Linked DNA regions of Homo sapiens: all the other regions are linked to region 3. Evidence: fine-mapped expression QTL. A gene starts in region 3. Each other region holds a variant in brackets. All regions are shown on one strand. Distances are from middle to middle. Region 1 holds the start of LOC107986668 (a long non-coding RNA gene). Region 2 holds the start of PRR18 (proline rich 18). Region 3 holds the start of SFT2D1 (SFT2 domain containing 1).

The links.
Region 1: its variant is fine-mapped to the expression of SFT2D1 in whole blood (INTERVAL, PIP 0.91).
Region 2: its variant is fine-mapped to the expression of SFT2D1 in whole blood (TOPMed, PIP above 0.99).

The regions. Positions count from the first base shown.
Region 1 is chr6:166,255,681-166,263,844 of GRCh38, forward strand. It overlaps LOC101929297 (a long non-coding RNA gene), which reads left to right. Exons shown (of 5, transcript NR_125862.1): 5 at 1,061-1,267. It overlaps LOC107986668 (a long non-coding RNA gene), which reads right to left and starts at 3,351. Exons shown (of 2, transcript XR_001744463.3): 1 at 2,023-3,351. RefSeq lists enhancers at 2,333-3,532, 2,745-3,612. The variant G/A (reference allele first, on the strand shown) is at 4,955.
Region 2 is chr6:166,301,467-166,309,646 of GRCh38, forward strand. It overlaps PRR18 (proline rich 18), which reads right to left and starts at 6,926. Exons shown (of 1, transcript NM_175922.4): 1 at 3,834-6,926. The coding sequence starts at 6,676. The coding sequence ends at 5,789. LOC107986669 (a long non-coding RNA gene) reads left to right here and starts at 6,082. Exons shown (of 3, transcript XR_001744464.2): 1 at 6,082-6,257. RefSeq lists a silencer at 6,409-7,008 and an enhancer at 7,079-7,358. The variant T/C (reference allele first, on the strand shown) is at 3,958.
Region 3 is chr6:166,338,868-166,347,047 of GRCh38, forward strand. It overlaps SFT2D1 (SFT2 domain containing 1), which reads right to left and starts at 3,678. Exons shown (of 8, transcript NM_145169.3): 1 at 3,552-3,678. The coding sequence starts at 3,614. LOC100289495 (a long non-coding RNA gene) reads left to right here and starts at 3,764. Exons shown (of 2, transcript NR_040022.1): 1 at 3,764-4,280. RefSeq lists a silencer at 3,389-3,548 and an enhancer at 3,610-4,503.

The DNA.
Region 1 (8,164 bases), 83 kb before region 3:
AATTTACTTATTAAAGTTGAATTTGACTTTAATAAGTTGAATTAATGCAATTGCTCAGTAAACATTAATTTAATTGAAGCTCATTCTTATCCAGAATAAATATAAAATGCAAGGTTCTTTGTGACACAAATATTTATAGAAACAATAAGAAATAACGTAGCTGGCTGGCTCATACCTGTAATCCCAACACTTTTGGAGGCCCAGGCGGGAGGATCACTTGAGCCCAGGAGTTCCAGACCAGCCTTGGCAACATTGTGACACTCCATCTCTACAAGAAAAAATTTTTTTAATTCAGAAAATTATTCAGATGTGGTGGCATGTGCCTGTGGTCCCAGCTACTTGGGAGGCTGAGGGGGAAGATCTTTTGAGTTCAGGGGGTCGAGACTGCGTGAGCTATGATTATGCCACTGAGCTCTAACCTGGGCGACAGAGTGAGACCCTGTCTCAAAAAAAAAAAAAAAAAAAAAAAAGGAAGGAAGGAAGAGAGAGAAGCAAACAACTAGAAATACTAGCAATATAAAAGTGATTAGTTTTGTATTTATATGACATTTAACTAATAAACTCTAAAATATTAGCTGAAAGAACAAAAGAAAATGCTTGCCTTTATATTGTCTCGTGTTCAACATAATTATGATAATTTAAAAAGATGTAAAGATCTTCATTTTAAAAATGTGTTGCTGAAAGTGAATAAATGAGTAAAACTGAGGGGAAATAATCTTTTCCTCTAAAGCTTAAAAACTTAGTAAATAAATAGCATAATATATGGAAAGGACATAGGCTTTGGGTGAATCTAACTTGGGCTCAAATCAAGCTCTATCCTTTGGGCAAGTTACTACATTCTCCAAGCCTCAGTTGTTTCAACTGTAGATTAGACTTGGTAATAACACCTTCCTCCCAGGATTGCTCAGGGAATAAGGTAAAGTCTGCAAAGTGCAGGGAGCTGTCTGGCAAACGGTAAAAAATGAAAGCATAATAAGTAATACTTTTGCATCCTACAAGTCTTTCTTATTTTTTTAATTAAAACAAATTTTTTATAGACACGTCTCTCTCTGTCATCCAGGCTAGAGTGCAGTGTCACGATCAGAGCTCACTGCAGCCATGAACCCCTAGGCTCCTGGGCTCTTGGACTTAAGCTGTCCTCCCACCTCATCCTCCTGAGTAGCTGGAACTACAGTCATGAAGCTTTATGTTAAGTTTCATCTACTAAATTGTAACAACTAAAACTTGAGGACTAAAATATATGGAAAAATTACTACTACATGAAAAATTGTGTTAAAGTCGTATCATTTATCTCTTTATTAGTGAACTGGGCTATAAATGTTCTAAAGATATGCTCAGGCTGGGTGTGGTGGCCCACACTTGTAATCCTAACAGTTTGGGAGGCCAAGACAGGAGGATCACTTGAGCCCCACAATTTGAGATCTGCCTGGGCAACATAGCAAGACACCATCTCTACAACAACAAGGAAGATAGTGATATGGTTAGGCTTTATGTCCCCACCCAAATCTCATCTTAAATTGTAATCCCCATAATTCCCATAATCCTCACATATCAAGGGAGAGACCAGGTGGAGGTAAATGAATCATGGGGAGAGTTTCCCGCATGCTGTTCTCATGATAGTGAGTTCTCACGAGATCTGTTGGTTTTATAAGGGGCTCTCCCCCCTTCAATGGGTACTTCTCCTTCCTGCCACCTTGTGAAGAAGGTGCCTTGCTTCCCCTTCCACCATGATTGTAAGTTTCCTGAGGCCTCCCCAGCCATGCTATACTGTGAGCCAATTAAACCCCTTTCCTTTATAAATTATTCAGTCTCGGGTAGTTCCTTATAGCAGTACAGAAATTGACTAATACAGATATGCCCAAATTAATAAAAATGATGCAAACCAATAATTGTGTGGCCACTAAAATCTTTACTTAACTGGCATCACACTCTTTACTTATGTTAAAGGAATAAATTGCATGCATTAGTTATCTATTGCTGTGTAGAAATTCCCCCACTGCAGCAATGTAACACAACACACACCTATTATCTCAACGAATCCGTGAGTCGGGAGTCCAGCGACAGACTTGCCGGCTCTCCTGCTGGGGTCTCACAAGGCGGTCGCCAGGTTATGTCCAGGGTGGGTTCTCATGCGGAGTCTGACTGGGGGAGCGTGCATGCCCCTGCTCGCATGTGTTTGGTAACACTCAGCTCCTTTCAGTTGTAGGATCTGTGGCAGCTGCTGGCTTCTTCAGAGCCAGTGAGGGAGACAGCGAGTCTCCCCAAAAGACAGTCCTGTGTGATGTGAGTCATCCCCAGAGTGACATCCCATCACCTTTGCTGTAGCCGTTGGTTAGAAGTCAGTCACCAGTCCTTCTCTGTGACTCAGGGGAGATGACTACATAAAAGGCAGTTACACCTGGAGGCACCTGGGAGTCTGCCACACGCCCCCCTGCCTCCCTCGCATGTGCAAAAGTCATTCACCTGCTCTAGGTACCTAAGATTTTCGGAGCTTCATGGCATCAGCTCAAAGCCTGAAATGTCAACATCTAAATCAGGTCAAAGGTCAGTGGAGGGTCATGGTGCAATCATTCGGTTCAGGTTCTGGGACACAATTCCTCTCCATGGATGGGCCCGGGAAGCTAAAGAGATTAGTGACCTGTCCCGTGGTGGAGCAGGCACCAGATGCAGCTGTAGACATTTCAGTTTTCAAGGGGAGGAAATGGCAGATAAAAGGCATCTTGACTGTGTAGCAATTCCAAATCCAGAAAAGTAAAGGTTGGGAGTTCTCAGTCAGGTTTCCAGGGCTGGGGAGAATTCTCCTGGCTTCTGGATTCCCTGTCTGGGCTCTTGGTCCCCGCATCTACACTGCACTTGTTTGGAAGGAAAGGTTGCCCATGTTTGCAGCTGAGGAGCTTTTTAGCCTACTTCCAGCCAGCAAAATCTGGGGAGTCTGGCAGCCTCCTTTCATCCTGTGCTCTCTCTGTTCCTTCCCACCCAGGCTGGCAGTGTTTCTGTGAAAGTGATTTCCTCAAAATCTTTGTCTCTCATGGATTTCACCTGGGTCTACTCCATGAGCCGAAGGCCTCACCTGCCGATGTTTTTGAGGCAAGCCTTTTCTATCTTTGAGTCCTGCCGAGGTGACTCGGAGTCAACGCCCTTCGGCTCCTCAGGGGCTCCCTGGTTCGATCCATGAGGCTCAGCCCTGACCTCTCTAAGGCACCCTTGGTGGGGCAGAATGCTGAGGCTATGATCTTTCTGAGGCCTTATCCAAAGGCTGTGCAGACACAGCCCAGCCACCTGGGCTCCTGGGCTTACACTGTCTTGACAGCACCATCTCTTGCTATCTGGAGAGGCCGACGCCTCAATTCTGGACGTCTGGACCCAAACCGTGAGACATAAACTTCTGTGGCTGTCCTCTGCCCAGTTTGCGGTCACATGTCGCAGCCGCCCGAGGTGACTAAGACAGGAAACTAAAGTGGCTGTTTCTTCCTCCAAGCTTTCGAAACTTTTTTTTTTTTTTTAATTGAGACAGAGCCTCGCTCTGTCACCCAGGCTGGAATCTAGTGGCAAGATCTTGGCTCATGCAACCTCTGCCTCCCAGGTTCAAGCAATTCTTCTGCCTCAGCCTCCCTAGTAACTAAGACTACAGGCGCCCAGCACCACGCCCGGCTAATTTTTATATTTTCAGTACAGACAGGATTTCTCCATGTTGGCCAGGCTGGTCTCAAAACTCCTGACCTCAGGTGATCCACCCGCCTTGGCCTCCCAAAGTGCTGGGATTACAAGCGTGAGCTCCCGCGCCCAACCTGAAACTTGGTTCTTTATCAACTTAGGGTCCCGGAGAGCAAAGCACCCGGCCTCCCATCCGCCCAGTGTCTTGCAGCGTCATCTTCATTTCCACCAAAAGGTCACGGATACATTGCTGCTTTCGCACCCAGCACGTTTTAGACAGTAAGCTTGTTCATGTGTCTTTCGCACCCAGCACGTTTTAGACAGTATGCTTGTTGATGTGTCTCTGTCCTTAACTCGGTTGAACTTTCTGAGAAAGTCCCCTCAGCATTTTAGAACTTGTGATGTTTCAGAATGTGGCCTCTAACCAGACCATAGGGCTCAGCTGGCAGCCCTGCTGCCTCCCAGCAGAGGTCACATGAGCTTCTTGTGCTTCCTTTTTCTCATCTGCACACTGGAAACGACAACAATAGAACCCATCCCACAGCGGGGTGCTGGCCAGTTGAATTGATCCCCACAAAGTGCTTACAACAGTGCCTGCCCCATAGCAAGTGCTGTATGCACACTGGCTATTGTGACGTTTGTATCCTAATACAAATGAAGATTGACCATGCTAAGGATGCGAACATTTGCTGAATGAGCTATAATTTGATATTCTGTCCTAAACATTCAATTATATTTGCTTTTCTTAAAAAAAAAGAAAGGTGTGATTGTGTGTGTGTGTGTTTACTATAAGCCACATCAAATTCTTTCAAGCAATAGGTATAAATGAAATAAGCAGCAGCAATTTATAAGGTCCCTTTCTACTCTAGAAATCTAAAAGTAAAACTTCAGCAAACCTAAAGTTTAGGGCAATGAGACAGGCTGGATGGTCGGGTTGCCTGGTACCAAGGTCTGAATGTGCCCCTCAGAATTCATGAATTAGAAACTTAGTTGCCCGTGCAAAAGTGTTGGGAGGTAGGGCCTCGTGGGAGGTGTTTAGGTTATGAGAGCTGTGCCCTCATGATGGTTCAATGCCCCTATAAAAAGGGCCAGTGGGAGTGGGTGTTCTCTCTTGCTCTCTCTCTCTCTCTCCTGCTTTTCTGCCATGTGAGGACATGGCGTTCCTCCCCTCTGGAGGATGCGGCATCTAAGGTGTCATATTGGAAGCAGTGAGGCTAGGCCTGAGCTGCCAGGGCCTTGATCAGGCCCCAGAACTGTGAGAAATAAATACCTGGCCTTTGTAAGTTACTCAGTCTCAGGT[G/A]TTCTCTTATAGCAGCACAAACTGGACTAAGACATGTGGGTAGCAGGATTTAAAAATACATTTTAAAACATTTTTTTGTTTGACAGTTTCAAAAATGTATCCTACTTCCCTCCTTCTCTGACTTGTTTGTTTTTACCATGTATTATTATAGTTGATTTTACACAAATACACTTTTAGACTAACTCATTAACTCTGAACATCACTATGTCCCCCTCTATTTCTAAAAATAACAAAAGTGATTTCTATTTATTGAGCACCTACCGAGTGCCAGGCTCCATGCTGGGTTCTATTTTCTTTAGAACATCTATTTCATTATTACTTAACAATTATCTGCTTTACACATTATAAGCCAAACTCTGTTCTATACTCCATGTGGGTTTAACTGAATATATAGTCACCACAGCCTTGCAAAGTAGATATTTAATTACGCAGGTGAACAAACTGAGGCTTGTTAAAAAACTAGAACAAGGTCTCACTGTGATTCCAACCAGACTTGTCTTACCATTATTACAAATGATGCTTTCTCTCATGATAGACATCTATAATTTACCTAGTTGGAATTGCTGCACACATTTTGTTTGGTGTTTTGATTTTTTAATTATATTGTGTATATATTTCCATGTAGCACATAATAATTTACATAATTATGGTAACTTTGTTACACCCAATTACCTACTTCAATTCAGCTAATTTCCTCTTGGTAAACATTGATTGAGTGTTTATGTGCCAGATTCTATCAAATGCCAAGGAAATAAAAATAACTGAGATAAGGTTCCTAACCCCAAACTTTCATCTAGCCAGGAGACATACATTATGTGAAAAGATAAGCATAACGCAGTGTGATACATGCATTTCTCAATGGTTGCACATTTGAGTTATTGCTAACTTGGCTGTTATCAATAGCGTTAGTACTGCCAGGCACGGTGGTTCACGCCTGTAATCCCAGCACTTTGGGAGGACGAAGCGGGCTGATCACGAGATCAGGAGATCGAGACCATCCTGGCTAACATGGTGAAACCCCGTCTCTACTAAAAATACAAAAAAAATTAGCCAGGCGTGGTGGCGGGCGCCTGTAGTCCCAGCTGTTCGGGGGGCTGAGGCAGGAGAACGGTGTGAACCCGGGAGGCAGAGCTTGCAGTGAGCTGAGATCACACCATTGAACTCCAGCCTGGGTGACAGAGCGAGACTCCATCTCAAAAAAAAAAAAAAAATAGCTTTAGTACAAATATTTTCACCATACCCCTGAATTATAGTTTTCAAAAAACACTAAGAAGCCAAAGCATAGGGACAATGGCCCTGCTTCCATTATGACAGCCAGACTGCTTTCCAGGATGCCTGCACCAAGCTCGTTTCTCAGTATCCAGTGCGTGGAAAGAGGATGGTCACACCTGCCCTTTACGTCACGAAGAAGAGGTTATGAGGCTTCACATAATCTATAAATATACGTGGTTACTGCTGATGTGTAAAGCGTAAGTATCCTTTGACTACTTGTTTAGCAAAGTGTGGATTATATGTTCATGCCTATACATTCATATCAATCCGTGTGCATTTTGGATGTAAACCTGTATCATCTTTTTACATTTATTGTTTTCAGATTTCATTGTCTCTTACAAAACAAAGTTCCTTTTCATTGTGTATAAAAGTTTTTAATAATGTTATTTTGTTAAGCTTAACTATGATGTCTCTGATTATATTATTTTATCTCCAATAAGCAAAAATGAACATCTCCACCGTTGAGATGAACGAATTTTTTCATTCAAAAAGCCCTGCTTTTCGCGATTGGCCTTGCTTGTGATTAGTGCATAGTGTGTGCAGAGTGTAAATGTGAGAGCGGGCCCTGATTCTTCAGCACTTCCTCTCCCACATTTCATTATTCCAGGCTTATGATATCTTATACTTTTAGAACTTTGGATTTCTTTCTGGAGTTGATTCCCATGCCCTGAGTGTAACATTTCCGTATAGATAATTATTATTGTATAATACATTGTTTTTTTTTTTTTTTTTGAGACGGAGTCTTGCTCTGTCACCCAGGCTGGAGTGCAGTGGCATGATCTCAGTTCACTGCAACCTCTGCCTCCTGGGTTCAAGTGATTCTTCTGCCTCAGCCTCCTAAGAAGCTGGGACTACAGGCGTACGCCACCATTCCCATCTAATTTTTGTGTTTTTACTAGAGATGGGGTTTCACCATATCAGCCAGGCTGGTCTCAAACTCCTGACCTCATGATCCACCTGCCTCGGCCTCCTAAAGTGCTGGGATTACAGGCGTGAGCCACCGCTCACGGCCTATTGTGTAATACATTCTAAACCTGTCGCCAGTTCCCTTTCATTACCTCATTTGACAGAGTAAGTGGTCAAACCTCTGAGGAGAGCTGAGGAAGGCCAAGGCCTGAGGTCCTCGAGGACCTGGGAGAGCTTCAGGTCTGCAGAACCAACCCAGGAACTGCCGGGCCGCTCCAGGGGCCCACTTCTACTGCCACGAGCATCTTAGGTTCTCTTGCTGACAGCCCCTGATGCCTGCCTGCCTGCCTGCGTGTGTTGCTGCCACCTCTGCATTTCTCCAGCCCTCTGTCTGTCTGGTGGCCTGGTCTAGTGGCCCCAGCTGTCTAGGTCCCCACTGCTGTGGCTGTGATCCTGCGTTGTGCAGGAGGCGCAGCTGCCATCCCCGCAGCCACAGCAAGCCTGCCAACTCAGGCTCAAGCAGAAGGGGAGCAGCGCCCCCATTCTTCCTGCTGGATGACACCCCAGCTCTTGTCTCTTCCTGGAATGGAGGTGGGAGGGCTTGGGGAAGATTCCACCATGATAGGACCCCATCTCCAAACTAAGGGGCAGCTCTTTCAGTTACCGTCCTCTACAAGAATTTGCTTTAAGTTCCAAGAAACAAAGGTGGAATGTATTTTAACACCATCACACATCGAAAGTGTTCTTTCCACTGCTGATGGCTCCATTCTTCAAGTCAAGGGCATATCTTTAGGGTGTTCTTGGGGGTATCGGGGTCCTGCTACCAGAGACCTCTTCACAGGTGTCCTCAGAAGTCCTGGGTACCCTCATCCCTCCTTATCTCAGAGACCTCTGAGGGGATGCAGATGAGGCCCCTGGTAAGCCTGCCCAGGGCCTGGCTAGATTTCCACCCCAGGGAAACCTGCTCTTGAGGACTCTGCAACATCCCAGTGACCACCAGCAGCCCATCTCTGTTTCACAGTGGTGACAATC
Region 2 (8,180 bases), 37 kb before region 3:
GTGTACATTTGTGTACGTGTGTGTTTGTGTATGTGTGCTGTGTGTGCACCTAAGTGGTGGGAAGAAGCTGAGGATCTTATCTTGCTATCATATTCCATAAGTGGCCTTAAAAAGCAACTGAAACCACAGACCACGTTCTGGGTTGGATCTTGTCCCCAACACCCCCAAATTAATATTAATATATCAAAGCTCTAAATGCACTGTGACTATATTTGCAGAGAGTGCCTTTAAGGAGGTAATTTTAAGGTTAAACGGGCACATACGTGAGGGCTGTGATCCAACAGAACTGGCATCCCTGTAGGAGAAGGAAGAGATACCAAGGCTCTATGAGGACGCAGTGTGGGAGGCGGCCGTCTGCAAGCTAGGAAAGAGGCCTCACCAGGGACTAGCCTTGCCGGCATCTTGATTCTGAACATCCAGCCTCCAGAACTATAAGAAAATAAGTATCTGTTTTTTAAGCCGCCCAGTGTGTGGTATTCTGTTAAATTGGCCCAAGTAAACAAATACAGATCAATGGCTGTCCTAAAGAACCGCTCAATATTGACTGTCCTCAAACCAAAGTCATTGCTCTCGGCAGACCTGGATACACCTTTGGACATGCTGACCCATTAGATTACGTAAGGAACAGTTCCAGTTAGTTTTGTGTCTCAGATACCCTTCATCCTGTAGAGGCAGGGTAAATATTTTTTGAATGAATAATAACTGAACAATTCTGGGCCTGCTGGCATACTATCCTGCTCAAAGTGAAATACTCAACAGATACTTGTTATAATTTCCTCGTAAAATCAGGTGTTGAGCTCCATGCACTGTCTGGGGTTGGCTTTTCAGGACACGCCCATGCATCTGCAGTTCTCAGAGCCTGCCTCCCGCTCTGGTGACAGGATGGCATCAGGAGTGGCATCAGGAGTGGCATCGGGAGTGGCATGTGCTGTGTTGTAGAAGCTTGTATCTGGGAGGCTCTCATAATTATGCTGACAGAGGTAGACGAGGGAAGACCTAGGACACAGTCATCAAGGGCGGGGACTCCGGATGAATGAGATGTGGGGCAAGGCCCCCCAGAAGTGGAGTGGCCAGCACTCCCAATTCTATGAGCTGGACGGTGCCTAGGCTGATGACATGGGGTCACTTTAGTTATTTTTGGTCATTGCATCCTACCCTCCCTGCCGTGAAAACACATGGCCAGGAAGGGAGACATGACTACCTAGAAAAGGAGACTCTATATTGACAGAGTCGCATTGCAGGGTCTCTTGTGAGAGGACACAGTTGGTTAAATCCACCTTCAATAAAATCTGCCTGAAGTATTTCCTGAGCCTGGTCGTGTATTTCTTGCCATATAGCAATGGCTCCCAACCTGGTGGCACATCAGCCCTTTCCCAGATCTACTGAATTAGTATCCCTAGGTCTGAGGTCTGGAATATCTGTTTCTTAAAACACTTCCCATCCATTTCAGATGCAGCTAACCCAGCCTTTACAGCAGGCACTAGGAGCCAACATGGTATGGATGAAACCAGCAGTTTGATTGTTCTAGGGTCTCTTAGTTCTGATACAGGAAGTACTGATAGATAAACCTACACTGAAGAAGGTTCTTTGGCTTCCCTCAATACTTTTTTTCCCTTCAATAATTTTTGAGACTAGAAAGAGGTCACGAGACCAAACATTTAAGGACTGATGTCGAATTGTCTGAGGTACTAGGGCAGTACTTGCTAAATATTTGAGCAGATCTAAAACTGCTTCCTGAAGATTCCCTACTGTATTTTGTAGGTTTCCATCCACACCACCTCCATAAGGTGGGATGGTCCAGTTCCAGCAAGGATGTCGCTGATAATGACCCCACTGGCTTTCATCAAGAGCTAATAGTAATGTAAAGAACATTTAGGCATCTTTGGCCGGGCGCAGTGGCTCATGCCTGTAATCCCAGCACTTTGGGAGGCCGAGGAGGGTGGATCACGAGGTCAGGAGATCGAGACCATCCTGGCTAACACAGTGAAACTCTGTCTCTACTGAAAATACAAAAAAATTAGCCGGGCATGGTGGCTGACACCTGTAGTCCCAGCTACTGGGGAGGCTGAAGCAGGAGAATGGTGTGAACCCAGGAGGCAGAGCTTGCAGTGAGCCGAGATCACGCCACTGCACTCCAGCCTGGGTGACAGAGTGAGACTCCGTTTCAAAAAATAAAAAAACAACAAGAACACTTAGGCATCTTCGAGAAGCTGCATTTAAGGATACTACTATCCATTGTGTTGTATATAATCCAAATACACACATAACAATTTTCTCCAAGAAGTGTTTCTTGTTATTAGATATTGAGATTATATGACTCTTACTTTAAACTTTGTCTCTGCTACCAGGAAGCTCAGAGCTAAATTTTGTGCTCATAACATAATAATTAAGTGTGAGATAAGAAGGCAAAACACAATAGACATTTTAATTTTTTAATTCCTCAGGAATATAAAAGTGTAGGTGTGCATTAAATGGTTAAAGATAAAAATCTCAGAATGCTGTAACTAGGGAGGTTTTGAATGTGCACAAGAGTGCCAGAGTTTTTTGAGTAGTAAAGACTTTTTTGAAATAGTAAAAATTACAGTTAACTTTGAGCTGGGGGAACGCTTCGCATATTGCCTCATAATCCTCACCAGGGTCACCTATGTTCAACTATCCCCACAGACAGAAGAGGAAACAGACATGGAAGTTTAATGAAAGATGTGGATAAATGACAGCATCAGTGTGGCAACTCCAGCCTCTAGGGCACCAAAACCCACCTTGAACCATGGTGCGGTACCTTCTCCCACACAATGCTGAGGGGCGCTCTGACTCCAAGCCAGACCAAGGGGCCTCCACTACAGGCCATGGGAGCAGCTGTGCCCTTACCCAGGCAGCATCTGGACAGAGGCCATGCTGGGGAACCACATCAATCCAGGTTTCCCAGAGGTCACAAAGGCCTGTGTGTGCATTTCTGTTGATGCAAAAGTGTCCTTGCTTACTAGAGAGACTGTTATTTTCAGACTTTCTTTGAATGATATACCACGGTTGGCTGAAAAGCAGAGATCCCACAGATCACCCACCCTAAACTGAACCGCGTGATTTCCAGGGAAACCCCACAACTAATGGTTCTGACAACTTGGCATCCACTTTTCTAGAAATAAGGCAGATCAACATAAAAACCTATCTTAAAGTGCCAGCTATTCTCTAAATAGAGGGAATTAAGTCACATATATGCTCAATCTTTGGAACTGGCAACACTTTTACTTACATAGTGGCACCCAATTTTCTCTCCTGGGATGGAAGTCCTCCTCAGTCCCTGCTATGAGATATTACAGTTATGGGAGAATTTGATAATAATATAATAGTAATCTAATAGTCTAGCAATTATTCAAATTGACCCTTTAATTTCTGATTGGTATGACCTACCAGTATGAAATTACTTTAGGCAAAATAAAAAAAATATTCTAGTGAGTGTATATAGGAGGAGTCCTTAACCTGGGACCCATGAGCTTCTTAAAATATATGCAAATTATATGCAATGTTTTGTTGCTATGTGGTACACGGTTTTAGGAGTCCTTTTGGAATATAGCTTTCACGGGGATTTGTGGCCCCATAAAAGGTCAAATGTCATTGCCAAATAACCTTACAGTATTTGACTATCTTAAAAATCCTGGTAGTGATTTTTAAAAATTCTAGTAGTGATTAAAACCAGCAAACCTTTTTCAACTCCTGGAAATCCCAGAACCTTAGGTTGAGTGCCACTATGAAGAAATCATGTCATGTGAATTGTAAATCCCTCAGTAGTCTCTTCCTGACCAGTTTTCAGTGTCCCCCTCAAAAAGAATCACAAGTCACTGAATTTCTCTTTTATTTAAGCATTAAGAAATTGGAGCATAGCGACTTAGAAAACTTTCTCAAAATGTCCTTAACAGCAATGAAAAGATATCATGTGTCACGTGTAAAACCTTTTTTCTG[T/C]TTGTTTTTTATTGAAGCTCATTGACCAGGGAAACATAAATGTTCCACTCATCTGCTTTTAAAGTAGAGAACAAGGCCCACAAACTCTATTTAATAAATACAAATTACTAAAAATGCGCTTAGTGTTGTATTGTGGCCAGTTAAGAACAGGAGATGCTGGGACAGAGCCTACAGAAAGGGCGGGAGAAGAAAGGAAATCAAAATGAAGCAGCTGACAGGGACGTCAGGGAGACACACAGGTGCAGTGACAGCCACACTGCAGCAGAAGCTCAGCTTGGAAGACAGAGGCTGCAGAAAGTCGGTCCCTCTAGGATGCCACCAGGGAAAAGTCTTCAAAATGTTGTTGTTACTGTGACCAAGGGCAGAAGTCTAGGCATCTTAATTATTGGTATTTGCACTAAGTGCAAGACGAGACCAAGTTGAGCCACTCCTGCCCTCGGCTCGGAGTCAGTGCACTCTTGCTCCACCCTCTCAGCTCCAGACCGTGTGCCCTGCCCAGGACGGCGCACTCAGAGACCATCTGGGTGGGGGTGGAACAAGAGCAGCACCGTCACTTGCATAAGCATTGCTAGTTTTGCCCCTCTAGAATTAATATATTCATTTTAAGTAAAAGAAAACTTATCTCCAAATTCAAAGAAGTTATTCAATGGGTAGGTTTTTTTCTGTTTTTGCAACTCATCTGGCAGCTGACCTAGCTCCCAATGAATTAAATGCTTCACATCTAACTAAATGTGTGCCTAGAATTAGAGAGAGAGAGAGAGAGAGACAGTGTGTGTGTGTTATTAGAGCAAAGACCTCCACAAGAAAAATACAAAATCTGTTTTAAAAATGTAAGGCTTCAATTTAAAATACAATTAAGACTTGATACATTTAAAGTCTATCAAGATAAACATTAAACCAGTTATTGGCTTTTACAAAGTCAGTCAAAAATTGAGGTAATACATTACTCTTTTATAACCAGCCTTATCTGATTATAACATTTTATTTCCTTCTCATCCTTCTAGTTAGATATTCTCAGATACATGGAAGAAATATGTAGAAATCAGCCTCCAGTTAGCGGGGGAAAGGATATGGTTACGAAACAGCGGAGGAGCTTTACTCTCTATTCAAATAATACACAGAAAAAATGTAATCAGCCGAGCGGTTTCCATGGAAGCGCTCATTGACCAGGGCTCACCAGCGCCTGGCGATGCCTACCCTTCCGCTTTGGAGACTGGAAATTCGGTTAACTGAGTTTCAGGGATGTCTAATACCCTCAACATTTTTCTGACTTGGGAGAAAACAAAATCACGAATGTAGGACCGGGTCCCAGCTCTGCAGGAGGCCACCGTCGCGGCCACCCACCTGGGCCATCGCCCACCGCACTGTCCAGGGTGCCCGGCGCCGGCTGAGGGTGACACCACGGGGCGTGCAGATGTAGCCCTGGGGAAGGCCCGCCTCCAGGCAGAGGGTCTCTGGGACCTAGACGAACCCTGGGGGTCGGGGCACCAAGAGGCATTTTCTCAGTTGCTTAATTCCCCACGAACTGCATGGATGCTCGGCGATGCCAAGAGGAGGCCAGAGTGGGGGCAGAGGCAGGCATCTGGGGTAGATACCACCGGTGTGAACGAGAAAGGCCCGGGCTGCCGGCTGGCGAGGGCAGGAGGGGGGCCGTGGCCGTCGGGCGAGTCTGGCTGCGCCCCACGTGGGCCAGCTTGCGCACTGGTGTCCCGAAAGTGGGCGCTGGCGGCCAGAGGAGCCTGCGGTCTCCCCCGAGGGCCCCTAGGCGGAGTGGCGCGTGCAGGAAGTGAGGTGGGATCAGGCCTGGCCTGTCCCCGCAGGCCCGCTGGGCTCACAGCGTGCTCAGGTGCCGCCGTGAGTCCAGGGCCCCCGCCCGGCCCCGCGCGGCAGCCGCGGACTCCACGCCGCGCAGCCACTCCGTGCACTTGCGTACCAGGCCCTCGTCCACCGCCTCTGGCTCCTCCTCGTACTCCACGTCGTCGTACCTGTGCCGCTCGTTGAGCAGCGACACCTTGAGCATCGGCCGCAGGGCCCCGGGCCGCGGGCTGAGCTGGGGAACCTGCAGGCCGCCGTGCAGCAGCTGGGCGCCGGGCGGAGGCGCGCGGCGGCCCTGGCCGGCGGTGGGGGGTGCGTCGGGGTCGCTGGCGGGGCCGCCCCTCCGCGGGCCCGCGGCCCTAGCCGGGAGACACGGGGCGAGTAGGCGCCTGGGTTCGGCCGAGGGTGAGGGGAAGGGCCTGCGGGGCCGCGCCAGCAGCTGCTTCTCCAGATGACGCTTCTGGATGACCAGGACGGCCTCGGGGGTGAGATTCAGGCAGAAGCGCGCAGCGGAGTCTGGACAAGGCCCCGCCCCCGAGGAGGTGCCCGCGGCGGTGGTCCCCGTCCCCGCCGAGGTCGCCGCATAGGTGGTCCTCGCTGGGCTGTGGCCGGAGCCTGCCGGCCGGGGCGGGGCGCACGTGGCTGGGGCCCGCGCGCGGCTGGGCAAGGCCTGGGGGGAGACGCCCGGAGGGGCCGGCGGCTGCGTCCTGTCCAGGCCGGGGCCGCGCCGGGCCGGCGGCCTCTTGAGCGTGGCGGAGGGCCAGGAGCTGGAGAGGAGCCCCTCGGGCCGCTGTGGGGGCCTCTTCTTCTTGTCCCCCGCGGCGCAGGGCCTCCGGGGTAACTGGCGCGCGGCTTGGGCCCCCGGGGCGGGGGCGGGCGGCGGCGGCATGGGCGGGAAGGGCATAGTGCAGCCGAGCCGCCGGATCCTCAGCCCCTGGAAAGAGAGGCGGGCGCTCAGCCACTGTGCGCGGAGCGGGTCCCCGCAGTCCGGGCGGCCCCTCCACACCCACCTGCGTCCAGCCGCGGCCTCTCCGGCTTCCTCACATCCCAGCGACCAAACCCGGGGACTCAAAGAGAGGCGCTCCCACCCTCCCCTCCTCCTGGGGGTGCTCCCGGGACTGGACCCTGCAGGAACCGCCTCCCGCCGTCCGACTGTGGGCGAGTCGCGGCGCCCCCGGGTCCCCACAGCTGAGACGCGGGCCGGGCCGGCAGGAGGAGGAGCCCAGCGCGCTCGCTAAGGACGCGGCCCTGCCAGGCCCCGGGCTGTGCCCGGCTGGTGTCACGACCGACTGTTGAATGGGAGCAAAGTGCCAGGACAGCGGAGGGCGGAGCGCGCGCCAGGCATCCCGGGGCTCCCCCAGCTGGCGCTCCGGTGGTCCGAGGTTAATGTAGTCCGTCGAAAGCCAGGAGCATTCCCCTGGGGGAGCCGGCAGCCTTCCGGAGTCACAGGTGGAGGCCCTGCACGTTTCAGAGAAAATCCCCTGTAGCCTCTCCGTGCCTTCGAGACGGCGGGAAAGGCACCGCCAGTAGATGCAGCTCTGCGGCCCCGGACACATCCTGCTTCACAGAGAAAAGCGGGCTGGAGCTGAGAGGGGAGAAATGACCCTCAGTGAATCTTACATAGTGTTCATGCCACCCCTTGAGGAGTCACTTTCAAATTCAAAACCTAAGTATCTATGAACAGGCAAAATAGTTCAGTTTCAGCTATATAATGCTGATTACATGGCAAATATTAGACATCAAGTCCCTTTAATAATTCTTATGAGCAAAGCAATATATTTATCACTGTAGCAGAGATTCAGAATTAATGAGATAAATCTTCACTGTCAATTTACATTCTAGTCGTAGACACATGAAGACATCCTACAATATTCAAATGTTTGTTTAATAAATAATTGAACAATTGCAAAGTGACGGATCAAAAAGTCAACATTTCATGTGTGCAGTCCCTGCATTACTTAAGGATAATCATCAGCTGCTTAGATCTCCACAAAGTACTTTCCATCAGATACACTTTTCTGATGGAAACCAGGTGTGTGATGGTTACGGCCCCAGGTTAGCTCCAGAGCACATTCAACTGTGGGTAAACACAAATGTGCCCTGTGCCAACAGTCACAGCAGGACAGCATGGCCCTCCCCCAGCCGCCTCAGTCTCCGAGGCAGCAGCAACGCCTCCCCTTGTTGACTGTTGGTGGCCTCAGAGAACTGCGCTGTGGATACATGGGAGCGTCAAGGAAACCTGGCAGGTGGTGGGAAACACTTCTCACCAGAGCTTGGGTTGGGGTGACAGGTTTGGGCCCTGTCATCTCTACCAGCACCTCCCAAGCCACCCCAATACAGCTCTGAAACAAGCCTCCCAGCTCACAGGCACTTTCCCTCCATCCCTGCCAGCCTGTCTCTGCCGGTGG
Region 3 (8,180 bases):
AACTCTGGCTACCGTGCCTCTCCCCGGGGCTCAAAGCGCCTGCATAGGAGGATGATGCAGCCTGGATGTCAGGATGCTCCCCTATGACCTTCACTGCCTCGCCCAACTCCTCAACTGGCCTAGAACCATCCCTGTCAAGACCCAATTCCAATGTGCCCGCCATCCTGGTTACGTCTTGCTGCACAAGACGTGCAACACTCTCAGGTCATCCCTCACCCCATTCAGGTCTGTGCGCCTTTAATCCCATCTCATCTCCTACCCATCTCCAAAAACCAACAGCAAACCTCCCTATGTCCTCACCCTCTTCTCTGATGATCCTCTCACCTTCCGGCTAGGTTTGAAATTTAGTCTCCAGGACCAGGGCTCTCCCCTGTGAATCCTGTACCACTTGGACAGGCAGTGAGCTAGGTGTCTGCCCTCCTCACTGCCACTTCCTGCCCCTTCCTCCTCCCTAGAGAAACCTGCTTTCCAAGTCACTCCTCAATAGCCCCCTAGCAACAATTCCCTCTTGCCTGCACCATAATTTTCCCCTTTCCTGGACCATTCCCAATGCACAGAAACATCCAGTATTTTCCTTGGGAAAATGACATGTTCCCCGACCCCACTGCATCCTTCAACTACCACCCACTTCTTTGCTCCACAGGAAAAATCACTGAGATGGCCATACCATCTCCATCTTCTTTCTATTCTCCCCTGACTTCAATCAGGCCTCTGACCCCATCCAGCCACCAAGACTGCTCTCGTGGAAGTGACAACTGATAACCTCCACGGGTAATCTGCTCTTAACTTCTGAGACCCATCAACAGTACTGGGTCCCATCCCCTTCCTAAAGCACTCTCTTCCCTCACTTTCTGGGGCATCCTTCTCTCTTGGTTCTCCTCCTCCTTCTCTCGCCACGCCTCTCAGCTGTCTTTGCCGGCTTCTGCTCATCCTCTAAACTTCTACACACCTAGAGAAAACCAGAGGTCAAACCTTGGACCTCATCTTGACGATCTCATCTCTCTCCTATTTCCTCCCACAAACTCTACAGTGTTACGTCCAACTGCTTTCCTCACATCTCCACTTGGATGCTACCTGGATCTCAGACTTCACGTCCACACTGAAATGATTTTCCTCCCTGAACCTGCTCCTCCCACAGTCACTTAATGGCAACTCCACCTCTCCAGATGCTCAGGTCGAATGCCATGAGGCATCCTTGCCTCCTCCCACTCTCACACATCCAATCCGTCAACAGTGTGGCCTGCTGGCTGTACACTCAGACCATTTACAGAATCTGACCACTTTTTTGTTTTTTAAACAGGCTTTTTTGCTCTTTAAACCACTTCTATCACTGATTTGAGCCACAGTCATCTCTTGCCAGGACAACTGTACTTGTCTCCAGCCCAGTCTCTGGGCTTCTAACATTGCCTCTACAGTTTGTTCTCCACAGAGCTGCCAGAGTGATCCTTTAAAATCCAAGTCGGTCACACCACCACTCTGCTCTAAACCCAAAGGCTTCCTATCACACTCAGAGTAAAGCTAAAATCCTTTCTATGGCCTATGAGAACCCTCACAATTGAGAATCCCCCTTCCTGCTTCACCTTTTCTTCTACAATTGTCCCTCTTCTCTGCCCCGCTGCTAGAGCCCCTCTGGCCTCCTTACTGGCCCTGAACATGCTGACCACACACCACTTGGGACTCTGTATCTGCCTTGGAGGCTTTTATTCACAGGATGCTCAGACATCCCAGCAGCTCTTCTGAGCTGTGCTCACATGACTCCCTGGCAGGGAGGCCTTATCTAAGTAATATGGCAACCCCAACCTCCTCAACCTGCTCTGACTTTTTCTGTGGCTGTCTGACACATTATATACTTGTTTATTCACTGTTTCCTCCAATTAAAATTTAAGTTCCATGTGAAAGAGGTATTTGCACTGGTCACTGTTATTAACACCTGCATCTTGAACAATGTCAAACATATGCAGGAACTTGAATATTTGTTAATGAACGATCACCTCCTCTGAACTCACAGCACTTGTCTATACAGCCAGTCACTCTAATCTTTGATTGATTACTTCTCCACATATCTTTCTCCCCTCTAGACAGTGGGCTCAAGATAAGTGATATTACCTTTGCATCTCCAAAGTTTAGAGTAGCACTGTCCAATAGAACTTTCTGCAATGCAAATGTTCTGTATCTGCGCTGTTTAATACAGTAGCCTTTAACCACATGTGCCTACTGAACATGTGAAATGTGGTTGCTGTGACTAAGGAACTGAATGTTAAATTTTATTTAATTTTAATTAATTTAAATTTAATTGCTCCAGGCGCAGTGGCTCAAGCCTGTCATCCAAGCACTTTGGGAGGTCAAGGTGGGCGGATCACTTGAGGTCAGGAGTTCGAGACCAGCCTGACCAACATGGTGAAACCCCCATCTCTACTAAAAACACAAAATAATTAGCAGGGCATGGTGGCAGGTGCCTGTAATCCCAGCTACTCAGGAGGCTGAGGCAGGAGAATTGCTTGAACCCGGGAGGCAGAGGTTGCAGCGAGTCGAGATCACGCCACTGCACTCCAGGCCTGAGCGACAAAGCAAGACTCCATCTAAAAAAAAAAAAAAAAAAAATTCATTGGCCACATGTGGCTGTGGTAATATACAGAGTTACAGAGTGCAATGAGAACAGATACTTGTCTTACACTCTCTGAACCCAAAACTGTAGCCCAGAACTCTACCCACACCAAGTGCTGAGTAAGTATAATGACAAGGAAGTCAGGAGAGACAAATAGAAGATCCTTATGAAATACAATTCAATTTTAAACGTCCAACTTCTGCGACAGCACACAATAACGTGCAATATAATCGCATGCAATAACAAAAAAACTTACACCGCAGTTCCTGCTCCACTGCTACTTTTAACCTTCTTGCTGGAGGAAGTAACCCTTATCAAGTCTCGCTGGTAAGGCGCAGACACAAGGGCTTTTATTAAGAAAAAAAAAAAAATCTCTTACCAGGGCTCACTGCCTTAACAGAAAAATTTTAATTCAATATTATTTCACTTACCAATGTCCTGTTTATTTTTCCTCCAGTCTCCCTATTTCCAAAAGACCACCCCCCAGCAAACACACACATAACACCACCTTTACCTCCAAAGACAAACAGATGCAACAAGCTTTAGGGTCTCGGCTCACTGCAGCTTGCAGGATAAATGCCCTGCATAGCTACTTACGCTGCACAGCCCGAGGCCAGACCCCGCACCAGGCTCAGAAAACCAAATAGTACGTGGGAGCGATGGATTATTTGGGAAAGCGAGGGCAGACGTTAGCGGATTCCTAAGTCAGAAGGCCAGATGGGAGAGTCGGGGGGGGGCCTCAAAGTGGGTTTAAGTAGACCGCATGGAAAACTGGAAAGTTCTCAAATTCTACCCAGGAAGCAGGCGGAGCCCTCCTAAATCAACCAGCCGGGCAGAGGAGTCCCAGACCCCCGGCCTCGCACCCACCCCACCCGCTCGGCCGGTCCTCAGTGCGGCCGGGGCCAGCGGGCAGCCCCGGGACTGGACGAGGGCGCAAGTTCGCTACCTGCGCAGTCAGGCCCTGCTCCTCGTCGTCCTGGCCGCTCAGGACTCGCCGCAGCTTCTCCATGGCCCTGTTACAGGGCCGTAGCGGCCGCCACTCTGTTGCCTGCCCCTGACGCCCACCAGGAAACCCCGAACCCGAAACCCCACAGACCAGCCGGAAGTCCGGTCCCGCCCGCTTCCTGTGCGTCAGCGCGGCCGCCGTAGCAATGCGCGCATGCTCACCAGCCTTTCTCTCGGACCCGGTAGTGGTCCGTGAAGTCCGCGGAGTGGGCGCTGATGGTGGGGCTATCCCTTCCCACTGTCCGCGAGGTGCGCCGTGGTAACGCGCGGGGACACAGCGCGGGTGTGGACCCCCTGCCCACAGCTGGCGCACAGCCATTGAGTGTAGACCCGACTGGGGCACGACCACTGAACCCTGCACTTGGCGTCCTCCGGGCCCCGCGAGGGGCCTTGCTGGGCGGGTCCGCGGCACCCCGGGTTCCCAGAAGTCGAGGCCCCGAATGCGCCTCCCCTCGCCTGGAATCGGAGAGCGGAGGGCTCCTGCGGGCAGGTGGCCGTGCTCCGAAGAGCGCCCTGCCACCCATGAGGTGGCCCTGGGGGCGTCGCTAGCCTTCCCAGCTGGGTGTCCTCATCCGGAGACACAAACACCTGCCTCAGGATTAAAGCGAGGAGCTGTATTTCAGACCGTCTCAGGAGAAATAGCAAGAGGCTGCCTCACTCCTTTGCCCTTGTGAGAGCTATTTCTTTACTCAGTTCACTGGTCAGCTAGGAGTTTGAAAGAGTGAAATCTTATTTATAAAAGGAATAGCTAATGCAACCCATTTTTCCAGTTTTGTGTGAACAGTGAAACCATTGAACAAGCGTTTACTGTTCTCCGGCTCGTGCTGGATGAACAAACACTAAGAAATGGGGAAGTGGCATTTTTCTCTCTCTCATTTTCCACCATGCTAAGAAAGGAGATTAAAAATCAGGGCTGCCTGTCTAATATGGTCTCCAGAAGTCATTAAGTGATAGGTTTTGCTCTTCTGTTTGCTTCTAGGCTTGGTAAGATGGTAATGAGAATGCCTGTTCTTTTGATTACTTTGCCCACTCCATTTCCTCCCTAAAATCTTTCAGTTAAAAGGTGGATCCTCAAAAAGTTTCATTGTCCATCCTACTGCCTCAGTAGAGATTTTATCTAAACTCAATTAGATAAAAACAAATACCACAGGAACCCTAGGAAAGCAAGTCGCGCCTTCTTGTGATGAAACGGTCCAATGCTCAGCATCCTTTTCCTTTAGGCAGAAGATATTTCTATGTGGCCTGTTCATACTAATATGAGAAGTCTTATCCTTATGTCCTTAACTTTAAAAGGTCAGAAAATAGATTGTAAAATCTATAGAATAAAACTATGTTTCTGTTGAATAAGAGAGTATGTCCGTAAGTGTTACGGGAAAGGGGTCCGGATCCATACCCCAAAAGAGGGTTCTTGGATCTTGCGCAAAAAGAATTCAGGGCAAGTGAAAACAAGTTTATTTAAAAAGTAGAGGAACATCGGTAGTCTGAGGCAGAGAATTGCTTGAACCCGGGAGGCGGAGCTTGCAGTGAGCCGAGATCGCGCCCCTGCACTCCAGCCTGGGCGACAGAGCGAGACTCCGTCTCAAAAAAAAAAAAAAAAAGTAGAAGGACAAAAGAATAGCTACTCCATAGGCAGAGCAGGGCTGTCTATTACCAGGGCTGCTGGTTGCCCATTTTTATGGTTATTTCTTGATGATATGCTAAACAAGGGGTGGATTCATGCCTCCCCTTTTTAGACCATATAGGCTAACTTCGTGATATTGCCATGGCATTTGTAAACTGCCATGGCGCTAGTGGGAGTGTAGCAATGAGAACGACCAGAGGTCTCTCTTGTTACCTTGGTTTTGGTGGGATTTGGCCGGTTTCTTTACTGCAGTCTGTTTCATCAGCAAGGTCTTTATGATCTGTATCTTGTGCTGACCTTCTATCTTATCCTGTGTCTTAGAATGACTTAACTGTCTGGGAATGCAGCTCAGTGGGTCTCAACCTCATTTTACCCAGCCGCTATTCAAGATGGGCTTCTCTGGTTCACATATCTGACATAACTGCTTTCAAGATTTTCAAGTATAGGCCGAGCGCGGTGGCTCACTCCTGTAATCCCAGCACTTTGGGAGGCAAAGGCGGGTGGGTCACAAGGTCAGGAGTTTGAGACCAGCCTGGACAATATGGTGAAACCCCGTCTCTACCAAAAATACAAAAATTAGTTGGGCATGGTGGCGGGCGCCTGTAGTCCCAACTACTTGGGAAGCTGAGACAGGAGAATCGCTTGAACCCAGGAGGTGGAGGTTGCAGTGAGCTGAGGTCGCTCGTTTGCACTCCATCCTGGGCAACAGAGTGAGACTCTGTCTCAAAAAACAAACAAAAAAACCTTACTTCCTAGCTCTTCCTGCTTCCTGGCCACATAGTTTTTTCAAGAGCCAATGACTCCTGAACACAAGGACATGCACAAAATTGTTGGGGTGATCAGACCCAACACCAGGTTGTGGGAGTGACAAAGTCCAGCAGAGTCAAAAGATTGAGAAAAAAGTTTGAGAGAGAAATGTGGGACAACAGGGGCCATTGCTATTGCGGAGGCTGTGAAGGCCCCGAGCTCTGGGAGCCCACAGTGTTTATTGGTAATCCAACTAAGAAACAGGTGGTGAGAATGTGGAGGTCATGTTGCATTAAGCACATGATTTACAGCTGTGACAGTTTAGCATTTATATGGAACATGTTCTGCTACTTGAGATAATGGGAATAGGTGCCTAGGAGCCTAGGAAGGCTAGAAGCAAGGAGCCAGCAAGTCTAGACACATTCCAGAGGACATTATGCAAGCCCTGCCTCAGTTTCCCCCCAACACTCAGCTTTTTCCCAGCATGCCCCCCTTCTCTTTATTGTAAAAGAGAAGATATCATTATTACTAGCTATCATTATTACTAGCATGGCTCTGGTTTGAATGCTTCCCACATATCTCCCCTTTCCCTTTTACAAGAAGACCCTTAATCCTAGGGGTTGCAGAAGGATGAAGGTCCATCTTCTGTAACTTCTTCATGCTGAATAGGGGTGACGATATTCCTGTCTAACTGTTAGGGTCTCTCATATTCAGGGTAGAGAGGAGCTGAGTCAGAAAGCATTGGCCCGTTAAGCATCGTGACTCCGGTCGGTCCTCATTCCTTCTTCGCATTCAGATTCAACTGGCTCATGGCTCACACTGGGGGAACCCGGTCCAAGGTTGGGATCCATGGGTACCTCCAGTCTCCCATTCCATGGTCGTACACATCTTGAGGGTATCCACACGGTTTGTTCATCTCCTGCAAAAACACAAGCATACCCTCACCCCCACGTTAGTAAATCTACTGAAACAGAAGCAAAAACTTTTGTGGCTGTAGCCGGGAGGCCACTGATAATGAGAAACAGGCCTTTTCTGATTAACAGAAGGCATAGAGAAAGCAAATCGAGGCTTTTCAAACCTTCAATTCGCACTGTACTCTACATGTGGGTCCACTAGATGCCGTGGCTCGTGATAGATCTTCAGATGGTTGGTGGGCACCCACACAGACACCTGAGTGTCACCTGGAGAGACACAAGCAAATCCTCTTCCCCACAAAATTATCTTTAGGCAGGGATCAGAGGACGTAGATTCAGAGGTAAAGAGAATTTGGGGGGCCTAATGGCTTCCTCATGTTTGATAGGTGTTCCCTCGGAAGTTAGGAATTCCCTTTCTCTCCATATTGCTGCGTGGGCTTGGAGGACTAGGTAAGCATGCTTAGAGTCTGTATATTTAACCTTTTTCCTTCTAATTCTAGTGTATAATGGCCCCTGCTTTTGCTAGAATGTCTCTCCCTAACAAAGGAGTGGGGCTTTCGGGCGTAATTAGAAAGGCATGTGAAAAGAGTAAATTTCCCCAGTCACAACTTAGTGGCTGGGAGAAGTATCAAGTGACTGCCTGTCCTAGGACCCCTCAGATAGTGACAGATCTGGAGGACAATTGTCCAGGACAGGAGAGTAAGACTGAGAAGACCGCACCAGTGTCCAGGAAACAGTTAACCTCCTGGCCCTCAATGGTCAAGCATACCTGGGGCTCTGTGTGGGTGATGGCATGGGCTGGTGCTTGCCCTGGTACCCTCAGTCCTGCTGCTGGATCATCTGGTTAGTGGCTTCTGACTCAGAGGACCTTTGTCCCCCAGGGCAGTGGGACTTCAAATTCAAATTCTGAGGCGTTTGTTGTTAGGAGTAGAAAAGTACTTTCCGAAACACATACCTTCTCCTTATTGGAATATCCCCTTTATCTACTAAAATGTACAGAAAACTCTAGGGCAAAAACTTCCCAAATGTTTGTAAATCTCAACTCCTCAGATGTAGTGTCTGGGCTAGGTAAGGCAGGGGCATAGACTGGAAAAAGTATAAAGCTTCCATTTTTTGTTTGCAACCAATTCTTCTGCAGTGATTAACAAATGGCCTTGATGCAAATAAAGAAAATCTACCCCTTAACTGCCCTCTGCCTCCATGAACATGCCTAGATGGAAATGTGGGTAGTGAGAGGGGACTCTTGATGTCACAGAAGGGTGCTTGGGACAAGGGTTTGTTAATTCAT